Linked DNA regions of Homo sapiens: region 2 is linked to region 1. Evidence: fine-mapped expression QTL. A gene starts in region 1. The other region holds a variant in brackets. All regions are shown on one strand. Distances are from middle to middle. Region 1 holds the start of DNAJC21 (DnaJ heat shock protein family (Hsp40) member C21). Region 2 has its middle 36 kb from the start of DNAJC21.

Region 1 (2,911 bases):
CCTCCATACTGTTGAGTTCACTTTTCCAAATTGCATTCCTCTACGATCCAGTCCAAACTCCTCTGAGAAGGGGAAGACTCAATACAAAATGGTAACTCCCTCCCTGAATTCCTGGAGCATATATTAGTTGTTCCATTAATCTAACCACCAATTATGTATGTTGCGATTTTTTTCTGGCAGTTGTATTTAACTTTTCATTTGTGTAAGGCAGAAAGTTGTTTTCCTAACAAGACTCTAAGACCCCTGTCTCAGCATTTCCAAATCTACTTAGTAGAGTGCAGTGACTTGCATATATTGGATACTCTGTAACCGTGTTTACTGATGAATGCTAATATGAAAGCCTCTTCATATGAACCTCAAAAAGCTGAAAGTCAACTACTCTCTTAGTTTCCCAGCCTGGAAGATCAGATTACTTCATAAAAGTCACACAGGCCTGGATTACAGACCAATGAAACATCCAAAGGAAGGATACTTCTAAGTAAACATACAAACTTTACTGGGGAAGCCGCCTGATTAAAACCTTCCCCGGCAGAATCATGTCCAAAGTGAAGTACAAGGTCTGCTTAAACAGCTTATTAAAAGAAAAAAAAAACAGCGAAAAAAGCGCATCCCTATTGAAAAGATATTTTACTAGCTCCCGTGTCTTAACTTCTTAACTAAGAAACGAAAAGAGCCATACATCAGGTTGAAGTATCTGGGATTCCCGGACGAGGTGGAGGGCAGCGGAGGAAAAACACCGAGAGGCTGCGCTGCAAGGGACGCAGGGAAAAGCAAGCCTGGGGCAGGTCTGAGTTCCGAGTTCCCGACTGCTCCCTCGTGGTGTCTGCGACCCGGTAGCGGGAGCAAGTGAGGTTGTTGGACTGCAGTTTTCCCCCTACAGTGGCGATGCGGGGCCGGGGTCGCGGGTATGAGGAGATGGGGTGTGAGCCGGGGTGCGCCAGGGCAGAGCGCTTCGCCCACCGAGACGGGCAGGGCGGCTCCGGGCACTGGCCGGGCGGGGCAAGGAGCTCCTAGGCCGCCAGGTCCCTCTCTGCTGGCTCCGCGGAGTCCGCCCGGGGGAAGGGAAGGTCGGGGAGGGCCGGGCTTCTCCGAGTGGCCGCGGGGGCTGCGGGACAGGTACTTACCCGGGTGCCATTTCAGGGCCAGCTTCCGATAGGCCTTCTTGAGCTCCTCCTCGCTGGCGTCGCGCCGCACCCCCAGCGCCTCATAGTGACACTTCATCGCCCGACCGGGCGGGCGGCCGGCGCTGGGGCCCGGGACGGGGTCGGGGCCCGGGCCCGGGCCGAAGCGGCGGCGGCGGCGGCGCTGGCAGTCCTCTCCGGCGGGAGTCCGCCGCCCGCACCGGGCCAGCCAGCGAGCCCGGCGGCGGCGGCGGCGGCGGCGGTGGTGTAGGTCAGTGAAGGCGCGCGGTGGCGGCAGACGACGCAGGCTGCGGCAAGCGGGAGCGCGGCGGGGGCGGTGCCGGCGGCCGCCGCTTCGCATGGGCTAGGGGTGGGCTCTGTGCCGGAAAGGGCCGCGCGGGAGGGGGTGGGGCCTCGGCGGGGTGAGAGGCGAGGCCCCGAGGAAGGAAGGCGGGGCCTTGGCGAGGAGAGAGGCGGGCCGCGCAGGAGAAAGGCGGGAGCTTGGCGGGGAAAGAGGCGGGCCGCGTGGGAGGAAGGTAGGCCTTGGCCGGGAAGAACAGGAGGAAGGCGGGACCTTGGTGTGAGAGGCGGGGCCTCGGCGGGGCGAGAGGCGGGGCCGCGCGGAAGGGAGGCAGGGCCACGCTGGTGTCATTGTGAGGGGCACAGATGGCGGTCAGTGTGAGTGGCAGCCGACCTGAGGGCTGAAGGGGGAGATAGGAGCTGGGATGGGAGAGGATTCTGGAAAATATCTGATTATAATTTCTCAATGGATCCCCGTTTTTATAGATAAGGCGATTCAGACTCCAAGTGGTCAAGTGGTTGGCTCAAGCCTCCTCAGCTAATACAGTAGCAGAATTCGGTTGGACTGAATATCAGGTTTTTTTTTTAATCTCTTTAATTCTCTTCAGCTGCCACTTAAGATATCTGGTATTGATCATCTTGACCAATATGCTTGAGAAAGGACAGTTAGATTATTTAAGCGGAAACAATTTAAAAGGGAAGCATCAACACACTTAATGAAAAGCCTTACCACCAACATGGATGAAATTGTGCTGATCTATCCATCCAACACACTTTAATCCTAACTTTCTGGCCTCTAATCCTACCTTTCCAAGATTGGTTTAGGTTAAGAAAGCAGTTAAAGGATAGTATTTAACTGGTAGGTTTTGGTTGATCTGACTATCTGCACAATTATTCCAAACACTTTGAAAGGTATCAAAATAATACCATAATTATTAAAATGCATTAATACACCAATATATTTCACTGTAATGTGGAATGTTTACATGCATCAGTTAGGTGTGGGTTGTATTTACTAACCATGTATGGTTAGCTATGTTGCTAATATCTATTGCACAGGGTTGGCGTACCCAAGCGGTTTAGTAAGGTTATCCTTCTCTTCCCCAATATGCTGCCCCCAGTAAAATAAAAAACCCACGCTAAGCTTCATCAGGTTACTTCACACGCCACTGACCAACCAACTCACTACTCAGAATTCATACACTTCCCTTTTTTCCAGAGGAAGATTCTACACAGTCTCAGTTAGTTGGTAAATTGGTAATGGATAAGGATTGAGAAGTCTGAGTTTGGGGGAGAATGAAACCTTTCCCCTCCTGAGAACAGAATTGGGATGGTGGGCGGGGGGAAGGGAGGGACAAAAAAAAAAAAAAAAACGGAAAGGGAAAGTATTTTTTTCCCTCCAACTTAATTTGGAGTATTTTCTCCCTCCAACTTGATTTGGTTTTGGATACAGCCTGTAGGAATCACTTACTTCTTTTACCTTCTGAAGT
Region 2 (2,911 bases), 36 kb before region 1:
AAGAGCTTCAATAATAGACTAGATCAAACAGAAAAAAAATTGGACTTGATAAGAGATCTTTTAAAATAACTCATTCAGACAAAAAAAAAAAAGAGAACAAGAGAGAGAAAAGAATGAAGCCTATGTGATATATCGGAATACTATAAATCATAAAAATATTCAAGTTTTAGGAGTTCCAGAAGAAGAGATGGACAAAGTCATAGAAAACCTATTTAATGAAATAATAGCTGAAAACATCTCAAGTCTTGCAAGAAATATAGACATCCAGATACAGGAAGCTCAAAGATCTCTAAGTAGGTTCAATCCAAAAAGATGTTTTTCCAATGCATGCTATAATCAAACTGTCAAAAATCAAAGATGAAGAGAGAACTCCGAAAACCACTAGAGAAAAGCATCAAGTCACATAAGTCAGATATAAGGGAATTTCCATCAGACTAACAGTGTATTTCTCAGCTGAAACCTTATAGGTTAGGAGACAATGGGACACTATATTCAAATGAAAGAGAAAAAAAACCCTGCCAACCAAGAATACTATCCCTAGAAAAGCTATTCTTCAAAAATGAAGGAGAAATAGTCTTTCCCAGACAAGCAAAAACTGAGGGAATTTATCACCACTACAGATCTTAAAAGAAATGCTTAAGGAAGTCCTACATTTGGAAGCAAAAGGACATTTTCTATCGCGAAAACACATGAAAGTATAAAGCTCACTGAGAGAACAGATGAGAAAGAAAATGAGGAAGAAAGAGGACTCAAACATATTCACTACAGAAATCCACCAACTGTAAAGGTAAACAATAAAAGAGGAAGAAGAGAACAAAGAATACACCAATCAGAAAACAATCAACAAAATGTCAGGAGTAAGTCCTCACCTGTCGATAGCAACCTTGAATGTAAATGGCTTAAATTCCCCAATTAAAAGATACAGACTGGCTGAATGAATTAATAAAACAATTCCCAGCAAGATGCAGTGGCTCACACCTGTAATCCCAGCATTTTTGGAGGCTGAGGCGGATGGATCATTTGAGGTCAGGAGTTCGAAACCAGCCTGGCCAACATAGTGAAACACTGTCTGTACTAAAAATACCAAAATTATCCATATGTGGGGGTGCAGATCTGTAATCCCAGCTACTCAGGAGGCTGAGGCATGAGAATCACTTTAACCTTGGAGACAGAGGTTGCAGTGAACCTAGATTGCGCTACTGCACTCCAGCCTGGGCGAGAGAGCAAGACTCAGTCTCAAAAAAAAAAAATCAAATCAAACCAAACCAAACCAAACAAGATCTAACTATAAGCTGCCTACAAGAAACTCATTTCACTTGTAAGGACACACATAGACTGAAGGGATGGAACAAATATTCCACACAAATGGAAACCAAAAACACGCAGGAGGAGCTATACTTTTATTAGAAAATATAAGGCTGGATG[C/T]AGTGGCTCATGCTTATAATCCCAATAATTTAGGAGGCCAAGGCAGGAGGACTGCTTGAGTTCAGGAGTTGGAGACCAGCCTGGGCAACATAGGGAAATCCCATCTCCACAAAAAATAAGAAAACTAGCTAGGCATGGTGTCACATGCCTGTGGTCCCACCTACTGAGTAGGCTGAGGTGGGAAGATTGCTTGGGCCCAGGAAATCAAGGCTGCAGTGAGCCATGATCATGCCACTCCACTCTAGCCTAGGCAACAGACTGAGACCCTGTTTCAACAAAGAAAAGAAATATATATAGAATTTAAGTAAAAAAATAAAAACAAAAAAAGAAAGAAGGTTATATTATTATATATGTCATATAATAATATATACAATGATCATCAATGATCACATATCATTATATAATGATAAAGGGGTCAATTCAGCAAGGGGATATAATATTGTAAATATATATGCACCAACACCAAAGCACCCAAATATATATAACAAATATTATTAGTGCTAAAAATATAGACTCTAATATAATAATAGTTGGAGAAGCCAACACCTCACTTTCAGCACTTGAAAGATCATCAAGACAGAAAATTAGCAACAAAAATGGACTTAATCTTCACTAGAGGCTGGGCATGGTGGCTCACACCTGTAATCACAACACTTTGGGAGGCCAAGGAGGGCAAATTACTTGAGCCCAGGAATTGAAGACCAACCTGGGCAACACAGGGAGGCCCTTTATCTACAAAAAGTAAAATTAGCCAAGCATGGTGGTGCATGCCTGTGTTCCCAGCTACTCAGGAGGCTGAGGTGGGAGGATCACTTGGGCCTGAGAGGTTGAGGCTGCAATGAGCTATGAATGCACCACTGCAATTCAGCCTGGGTGATAGAGTAAGACCCTGTCTCAAAAAAGAAAACAAAACAAAAAACAAACAAACAAAAAAAGCACACACACAAACCTTTACTATAGACCAAATGAATCTAACAACCTAACAAACATTTACAGAACATTTCACCCAACAACTGCAGAATATACATTTTTCTCATCAACAAATAGAACATTTTCCAGAAGAGACCACACAAGGGGTAATCAAAATTCATGAAAAAATGTATATCGTGAGGAAACTATACATGGATGTCAAAATTTTTTGCACTAAAACTTGTACTAACTTACTGTAACATAGCAGAACAGGATCTAGTTTGAGGCACTAAGAAGGATAAGACATCAGTTTGAAAAGAGAGCCTATCAGAGCTATATAAATTCTGCTAAAATTGAAGGAAGAACAAGCATCAAATTTACGGTAAAGCTTGGGTGGAAGATGATAAAATCATTCATGTTTTACAAAAAGTTTATGGGGACAATGCCCCAACAAAATTAGCAGTTTATAAATGGATAATTCATTTTAAGAAAGGACAAGGTAGTTTGAAGATGAAGCCTGCAGCAACAGACCATTCACATTAATGTGCAAGGAAAAAAATTCATCTTGTCTGTGCCC

What was found.
Region 2: its variant is fine-mapped to the expression of DNAJC21 in whole blood (INTERVAL, PIP 0.98).

The regions. Positions count from the first base shown.
Region 1 is chr5:34,928,130-34,931,040 of GRCh38, reverse strand. It overlaps DNAJC21 (DnaJ heat shock protein family (Hsp40) member C21), which reads right to left and starts at 1,482. Exons shown (of 12, transcript NM_001012339.3): 1 at 1,125-1,482. The coding sequence starts at 1,221. LOC124900961 (a long non-coding RNA gene) reads left to right here and starts at 1,360. Exons shown (of 2, transcript XR_007058731.1): 1 at 1,360-1,392; 2 at 1,908-2,911. RefSeq lists enhancers at 717-886, 353-998 and silencers at 1,027-1,226, 1,257-1,326, 1,337-1,806.
Region 2 is chr5:34,963,675-34,966,585 of GRCh38, reverse strand. No RefSeq gene overlaps it. Among named protein-coding and RNA genes, the nearest start is that of DNAJC21, 36 kb to the right of the region's middle. The variant C/T (reference allele first, on the strand shown) is at 1,426.